Homo sapiens: one gene and its partner. The protein of the gene in region 1 purifies or fractionates together with the protein of each later gene. This does not show direct contact. Each region holds a gene or a part of one and is shown in the gene's direction. Other genes may lie near its edges.

The links.
Region 2: the proteins of POU3F1 (region 1) and TBC1D24 purify together in Homo sapiens (affinity purification with mass spectrometry; one large-scale study listed by BioGRID and IntAct). This does not show direct contact.

The regions. Positions count from the first base shown.
Region 1 is NC_000001.11:38,043,994-38,048,281, reverse strand, and holds the start of POU3F1 (POU domain, class 3, transcription factor 1), read left to right. Parts: upstream 1-1,488; 5' UTR 1,489-1,538; coding exon 1,539-2,894; 3' UTR 2,895-4,288. UniProt on the Homo sapiens protein: Transcription factor that binds to the octamer motif (5'-ATTTGCAT-3'). Acts as a transcriptional activator when binding cooperatively with SOX4, SOX11, or SOX12 to gene promoters. Acts as a transcriptional repressor of myelin-specific genes.
Region 2 is NC_000016.10:2,495,363-2,499,161, forward strand, and holds part of TBC1D24 (TBC1 domain family member 24), read left to right. Parts: intron 1-671; 5' UTR 672-786; coding exon 787-1,751; intron 1,752-2,347; coding exon 2,348-2,365; intron 2,366-2,875; coding exon 2,876-3,034; intron 3,035-3,799. UniProt on the Homo sapiens protein: May act as a GTPase-activating protein for Rab family protein(s). Involved in neuronal projections development, probably through a negative modulation of ARF6 function. Involved in the regulation of synaptic vesicle trafficking.

The DNA.
Region 1 (4,288 bases):
GCTAGATCCAGGAGAGAAAAGAGGGAGGACTGGCAGCTGAAGACTCCCTGGGACCCAAGCCTCGGTGTGGGGAAGAGGAGAAAACACAGCTCAGTACCCTCAGCCTGGGGCCCAAGGTCGGGTAAGAAGGCACAAAGGAACTGCAGTGAGGTCCGACTCCACTCAAGATCCTTCAGGGAGTCCTCAAGGGCTGGGGCGTGAGGAGGTAGCTAAATTCCACTGCCCACCTTTCCAACAAGGCCTCCTCAATCTCAATTCCCTTTTCAGCAGCTCCAGGCAAGTCCGGGCAAACTCTAGCCCAGGGCTCTTAGCGAGGCTGGACAGCTCCCGGCCTGCACGCCGGATTTCTGGAGAGCCCGAGCCCCTTCCCTGAGCCCATCCTTCTCCTCTCCCGGGGCGTGATCCCACCACGACCACAGCCGATGAGCCGTTCAAGCTGGGAGAAGGAGCGAGAAGGCTGCAGCGGCGCAGGTCAGATACCCCTGGGCCCAACGTCCACCCCCAACTAGCGCCCTTGCCAGCAGCGTTTTCCCCGGAGCCACAGTCTCCACCTCGAGATCTTCTCCTTCTGGAACCCCGGAGCGCGGCCGGGTACCAGGGGCTCGCGTAGGACTGTAGAACCGCTGCCGCCCGCCGTCCCAGCCCCAGCTGCCCGCGCGGTACTCACCTGGGCCTCAGTGCCCGGGAGAAGGTGTGCCCGCGCGAGGCGTGAAGCCAGAGTCCGTCCGACTCCGCCCGCACCGGACGCGCTCTCAGGGCAGAGGAGGTCGGCGGAGTTGTGACGCTGGGACTAGAGGAAGGAGAAGGAAAGCCGAGACGGGCCGGGCAGACGCGCCGAGGAGCGCCCAGTGCACGCTGGCAGCCGCGGGAGGCGAGGCGGGCGCGGTGAGCAGTCGCGCCGGAACCGAGCCGCGAATCCGCGCCGCCTCGCGCTCGCAGCCGCCAGGACCCGCGGGAATCCTGGTCCGCCGGCAGCGGTACTGAGGAGGGAGGGGCGCGGGGCTGAGCCGCTTCTCGGAGCCCGAGCGCCTCCCGGAGCCGGCAATCCCTGCTGCCCGGGCGGGATGCGGGCGGGAATTCAGCTCGCGTGGAATGTGGGACCGGCCGGGCTCGGAGTCTCCAGCGCTGGGGGAAAGCGGGGCCCACACAGCCAGGACGAGAGGGGGTGCGGTCCCAGGGCCACCCCCGCGCCACTCCCCACGTGGCGGCCGCGCCCCCGGGGCGTGAGTGTGTACGCGGACGGTAGGGGGGCCGTGAATGAAGCCCCAGCGGCCAATCAGCACGGCCGGCGCGCGGGACCCCGGGAGCGACGCCCAATGGAGAGCTCTGGGCGGCCGGGCAGGGTGGCGGGCGGGCGCGCGGGGCGGGGGCCGGGCAGGGGAGGCGGGAGGCAGCTCCGCGGGCAGCCAATGGGCGGCGGGCGGGGTGGGGCTCCGGAGCGCCGAGCGGGTCGGGGCTTTAAGCCGGCGGAGCGAGGCGGCGGGGCCCGCAGACGGAGCGGAGCGGCGGCGGCGGCGCGGCGCAGGGCGCGGGGCGGCATGGCCACCACCGCGCAGTACCTGCCGCGGGGCCCCGGTGGCGGAGCCGGGGGCACCGGGCCGCTTATGCACCCGGACGCCGCGGCGGCGGCGGCGGCGGCGGCGGCCGCGGAGCGATTGCATGCAGGGGCCGCGTACCGCGAAGTGCAGAAGCTGATGCACCACGAGTGGCTGGGCGCGGGCGCGGGCCACCCCGTGGGCCTAGCGCACCCCCAGTGGCTACCCACGGGAGGAGGCGGCGGCGGCGATTGGGCCGGCGGCCCGCACCTAGAACACGGCAAGGCAGGCGGCGGCGGCACCGGCCGAGCCGACGACGGCGGCGGCGGCGGAGGTTTCCACGCGCGCCTGGTGCACCAGGGGGCGGCCCACGCGGGCGCGGCATGGGCGCAGGGCAGCACAGCGCACCACTTGGGCCCGGCCATGTCGCCCTCGCCCGGGGCCAGCGGGGGCCACCAGCCCCAGCCGCTCGGGCTGTACGCGCAGGCGGCCTACCCGGGGGGCGGCGGCGGCGGCCTGGCCGGGATGCTGGCGGCGGGCGGTGGCGGCGCGGGGCCGGGCCTGCACCACGCGCTGCACGAGGATGGCCACGAGGCGCAGCTGGAGCCGTCGCCGCCGCCGCATCTGGGCGCCCACGGACACGCACACGGACATGCACACGCGGGCGGCCTGCACGCGGCGGCGGCGCACCTGCACCCGGGCGCGGGCGGCGGCGGCTCATCGGTGGGCGAGCACTCGGACGAGGATGCGCCCAGCTCGGACGACCTGGAGCAGTTCGCCAAGCAGTTCAAGCAGCGGCGCATCAAGCTGGGCTTTACGCAGGCCGACGTGGGGCTGGCGCTGGGCACGCTCTACGGTAACGTGTTCTCGCAGACCACCATCTGCCGCTTCGAGGCCCTGCAGCTGAGCTTCAAGAACATGTGCAAGCTCAAGCCGCTGCTCAACAAGTGGCTGGAGGAGACCGACTCGTCCAGCGGCAGCCCCACCAACCTGGACAAGATCGCGGCGCAGGGCCGCAAGCGCAAGAAGCGCACGTCCATCGAGGTGGGGGTCAAAGGCGCGCTCGAGAGCCACTTTCTCAAGTGCCCCAAGCCCTCGGCGCACGAGATCACCGGCTTGGCAGACAGCCTGCAGCTGGAGAAGGAGGTGGTGCGCGTCTGGTTCTGCAACCGGCGGCAGAAGGAGAAGCGCATGACCCCTGCGGCCGGCGCGGGCCACCCGCCCATGGACGATGTATACGCGCCTGGGGAGCTAGGGCCTGGCGGGGGCGGCGCATCGCCACCCTCCGCGCCCCCACCGCCCCCGCCGGCGGCGCTGCACCACCACCACCACCACACACTGCCCGGCTCAGTGCAGTGACCCCGCGGGCCGGGCCCCCGCCGGCGCGCTGCAGGGCGCGGGCGCGCAGCCCGCCCGCGCGGCCTGGACTCTTTTTGTTCGGTTGCTTTGGATTTTACAAAAAAAAAAAAAAGCCCAGAAACTTTCGAACAAAACCAAACACCCGGACGACCCTCTCCGGTGAGCGGCGAAGACAGCCCGGTAGGCTGCGTCGCCCGAGCCCCGGGAGAGAGGAGCGAAGATCCGGAACTCGCCAACTCACCCCGGGCATCCTGCCCGCCGCCTGCTCTCTGCCCCCATCCCCTCGACGACCCCCGCCCCTGCCCCCCCGGGCTGTTCGGGGCCGGATCCCGGCAGCGGCCTCCCCAAAGCGACAGGTAACGCAGTGCGGGGTTAGGGATTCCCCGGGAGAGAGGACGAAGCGAGGAGAGTTCTCCATCCCCTCTCCCCGCGTGGACTCCTGAGCCTGCGGGTCCAGGGTGGGGGGCTGTCACTTTATTCGCTACACGCCTCTTCTCTCCTATAAGGATGCGCCCCACCCCGCTTTCCCCTTTCTCCGGGCTTGGTTTTTTACGGTTTTTATTTATTCGTGGAGCCTCTCGGCTCCTGGGGTCCTTCTAACTCCGCCCGCGCCCTTAATTTAAATCGCAGTATACTGTATTTATCGGGGCCCCGGAGGGGAGGTCGCGAGAGCCGCGTCTGTGTATAAAAGCAGGAAATAGCCAAAGCTTTAATCTAGCCTAATTTATTTTTCCCCTTATATTTCCCTACCCTACCCTCCCCCCAAAAAAAAGCAAAAAAAAAAAAAAAAAACTAACAAAAAAAATTCGAGTGTTCATTTTTCGTTTCGTTTCATCCGAGCCCCGGCTTGGTTCCCGGCCACGCCGGAGGGGTCTGCGCTCCCACACACCCAGACGGGAAGGGGCTTCTGCCCTGCTGCAGACCGACCGCCGCATAGCGCGGCCCCTGCTCCCCGCGGGGCCCTGCCCTCCTGGCCACACCAAACGAAACTTGGAAAAGTTAGAGAGATTGTTTTTTAACCAGCTGTAGAAATAAGCCGTTCCCTGAGAACCCTCCGCCTGATTCCCTGCAGCTTCCCTCTGCTCCCTTTCCAGCCCGCCGGGATGCGGGATGCCAGGGGAGGCCGGGAGAGAAATTCCCCAAGTTTGGGGTGAGGTGGGAACCATGTAAATATGTGAGATATGTACACACTGGCGGGGAGAAGAAACATTTTGTGCTTGGTTTTTATTTTTGGTTTTCCGGGTTACCCTTCCTTCCTACCCTAAAGGATTTTGTACACTGACTAATCCGAAAAAGATATTTTAATATGATTTCCGAATTTCTGACCCATCTCTATTTATTTTCTGGATGTGTTTGGAGCTTCCCCCTTCTCCGTTTCTTCTTCTGTTTGTTAA
Region 2 (3,799 bases), on another chromosome or scaffold:
AGGCCGGGCACAGTGGCTCATGCCTGTAATCCCAACATTTTGGGAGGCCAAGACAGGAGGATTGCTTGAGCCCAGGAGTTCAAGACCAGCCTGGAGAGCATAGCGAGACCCTGTCTCTACAAAAAAATAAAAAATTAGGCCAGGGCGGTGGCTCTCGTCTGTAATCCCACACTTTGGGAGGCCAAGGCAGGCACATCACAAGGTCAGGAGTTTGAGACCAGCCTGACCAACATGGTGAAACCCTGTCTCTAGTAAAAATACAAAAAATTAGCCAGGCATGGTGGTGCATGCCTTTAGTCCCAGCTACTCAGAAGGCTGAGTCTGGAGAATCGCTTGAACCAGGGGCGAGGAGGTTGCCGTGAGTGGAGATCGTGACACTGTACTCCAGCCTGGGCGACAGGGTGAGACTCCATCTCAAAAAAAAAAATTAACTGGGCATGGTGGTGGACACCTGTCGTCCCAGCTACTCAGGAGGCTGAGGCAGGAAGATGGTTCAAGCCATTCAAGGCTGCAGAGAGCAGGGTCACGCCACTGCACCGCACTCCAACCTGGGCAACAGAGCGAGACCCTGTCTCAAAAGAAAAGAAAACTACACCACATTTGAAAAAATACGTTCTTTAAAATGTGAACCTTGAAACACAGATGCTAAAAGTGTTTTTTTAATCCTGCAGGGTGTGAGATGGCAGACAGGTTTGCAGGAAACCCTCAGAAAGGGGGCTGGAGGATTTAGCCACTCTGTCCTCCCCTTCCGGCAGTCCAGGGCCTCCTCCCGAGCACAGCGGCGCTATGGACTCTCCAGGATACAACTGCTTCGTGGACAAAGACAAGATGGACGCTGCCATCCAGGACCTGGGGCCCAAGGAGCTGAGCTGCACTGAACTGCAGGAACTGAAGCAGCTGGCGCGCCAGGGCTACTGGGCCCAAAGCCACGCCCTGCGGGGAAAGGTGTACCAGCGCCTGATCCGGGACATTCCCTGCCGCACGGTCACGCCTGACGCCAGCGTGTACAGCGACATCGTGGGCAAGATCGTGGGCAAGCACAGCAGCAGCTGCCTGCCGCTGCCCGAGTTCGTGGACAACACGCAGGTGCCCAGCTACTGCCTGAATGCACGCGGCGAGGGGGCCGTGCGCAAGATCCTCCTGTGCCTGGCCAACCAGTTCCCCGACATCTCCTTCTGCCCCGCCCTGCCGGCCGTGGTGGCCCTGCTGCTGCACTACAGCATCGACGAGGCCGAGTGCTTCGAGAAGGCCTGCCGCATCCTGGCCTGCAATGACCCCGGCAGGAGGCTGATCGACCAGAGCTTCCTGGCCTTTGAGTCGTCCTGCATGACGTTTGGGGACCTGGTGAACAAGTACTGCCAGGCGGCCCACAAGCTGATGGTGGCCGTGTCGGAGGATGTCCTGCAGGTCTATGCGGACTGGCAGCGCTGGCTGTTTGGGGAGCTGCCCCTCTGCTACTTCGCCCGGGTCTTTGACGTCTTCCTGGTGGAGGGCTACAAGGTGCTGTACCGCGTGGCGCTGGCCATCCTCAAGTTCTTCCACAAGGTGAGGGCCGGGCAGCCGCTGGAGTCGGACAGCGTGAAGCAGGACATCCGCACGTTCGTCAGAGACATCGCGAAGACGGTGTCCCCTGAGAAGCTGCTGGAGAAAGCGTTCGCCATCCGCCTCTTCTCCCGCAAGGAGATCCAGCTCCTGCAGATGGCCAATGAGAAAGCCCTGAAGCAGAAGGGCATCACCGTGAAGCAGAAGAGGTAGGTCGCCGGCAGCCTGTGAGGGGTACACCCAGGGTCGGGGGCTGGGGCAGGACGTGTCTGGCGTGAGCTCATCCTGCCGGCCTCCAGGCGGCCTCTGCCCATGGTCCACCCAGCCATCTGTGCATGGCTGAAAAGACACTGAAACAGGAAGGGCCTTCCCAGTTACAGCCACAGACGAGGGACATCGGGTCCTATCCTCTGGGGCCAGGCCCACGGCTGAGATGAAAGCTGATGCTGGCCATGGGGTCGCAAGGCATCGTGGGAGGCCAGGCCCACTCCCAGGGTCATTTCAGGGCAGCCTCTGCTCCACCCCTCCGGCTCTGGGCTCCGTGGCTGGTCTCTGCTGTGGCTGCTGGGCGTGGCCTCCCCGCCTGGAGCACAGCCCCAGGGGAGCAGGGTCAGGAGTTCATGGTGTCTGTCCTATGTGGATTTGGCAGCCAGCGCTGTGATGGTGCCACGCTGCGGCCTGTTGGCGTGCAGCCCTCTTTCTTCTGGGCCAGCAAAGGCCTGTCGGGGGATCGGTACTCACACTAACCTCTCTTTGTCTGTTTTATTTTTCTTCTCCATGTCCGTTGCTTTCTCCTGTTTTTCAGTGTGTCACTTTCTAAAAGGTAGGTCTGAAACTGTATCTGCACACCTGGCCTCTGTCTTTCCACCAGGCTGACTCTAGGCCAGCTGCTTGCTCTGGGTCTCAGGGCTGCTCTCGTGGGCCAGCTTCAGCAGCGCTGCCTCTGAGCCGGACTGATGCTCAGGCGCCTTCTGTCTGTCTGTCTGCCTGCCTCCCTGCCTGTCTGCCTCTGTCATGCTATCTGCTGGTGTTTGGCTCACCCTGAAGCCTTGTCTTGCCAGAGCAGTTGCTCTCTGTCCTGATTTCTTAGAGAAAAGTTGCATTGTCCCCATCCAAGCTGGGCACTTTCCCTTCTGTAATGGGTGGGAGGTGGGGCTCCTGGGAACTTTCTCCCCGTTGGGCACCTAGAACCCGGCCCTAAACCGGGGCCGGGGCAAGCAGGCGAGAAGTTCCCTCTGGGTTTACTTCCAAAGAGGCTCTGGGGCATACCTCGGGGGGCATGGCCTGGCCCCAGACGTGCCTTCGGGCTCTGACCCCTGCTCGCTCCCCTCAGGCAGTTTGTACACTTGGCCGTCCATGCAGAGAACTTCCGCTCGGAGATCGTCAGCGTGAGGGAGATGAGAGACATCTGGTCCTGGGTCCCCGAGCGCTTTGCCCTGTGCCAGCCCCTTCTGCTGTTCTCCTCCCTGCAGCACGGGTACAGCCTGGCCAGGTAACACCCCAAGGGGCCAGAGCGGGCGGCAGAGCCGCCCAGCCACGTGTCCTGCCCACAGAGGCTGGAAATGGGCCTCAAACCTCGGCACCTGGTGAGGCCCTGCTTCTTCCTGTGGGGCCTAAGAATCAGGGTCCCTTTCTGGGCTCTGTCCTCCCCACACCACCCAGACTTTGGGGGTCATGGCAGGCGTGCCACAGCTTGGGGCCATGCAGGCGTCGTGAAGACGCCTGGGAGGCAGGATCCCCACCTTGGAGCTCACAGCATTGTCTTGGTTGGGGGACCATGTGGGCGGCAGGTCCTGGCTGTGCTCGCTCCCCACCCTGTCATCCACATGGTGCTCTGTCGGGGGCCTGGGGCATGCTGCCCTCCAGGGTGGTGCTGCCAGGTGCAGCCAGGGAGCCTCCCTCCAGCCTTGGACAGCATGTGGCCGTGGGAGCTCTGGGTTGGGCCTGGGGTGACCTGGGGGTGAGGCAGGCAGAGCTGGTCCAGCCCCCACCCAGCACCGTTCACAGGTTCATAACAACTCAAGCATTTTGGCACAGCTGGAGCCACTTCTCCTGGCCCTGCCAAGGACACCAGCCAAGCTCCAGGCGCCACGTTGGCAGACCAGGGCCTCTTTGGCTCCCACATGCCTGGGCTGCGAGGATGGCCCAAACCTCCCCACCGCAGGGACCTGTTCCTCTGGTTCCTGCTTCCCCAGCCCCTGGCGCTTGGCTCTGCACTGGGGCCTTCCACTGCAAGGCCTCTCCCCTGAGTCACACC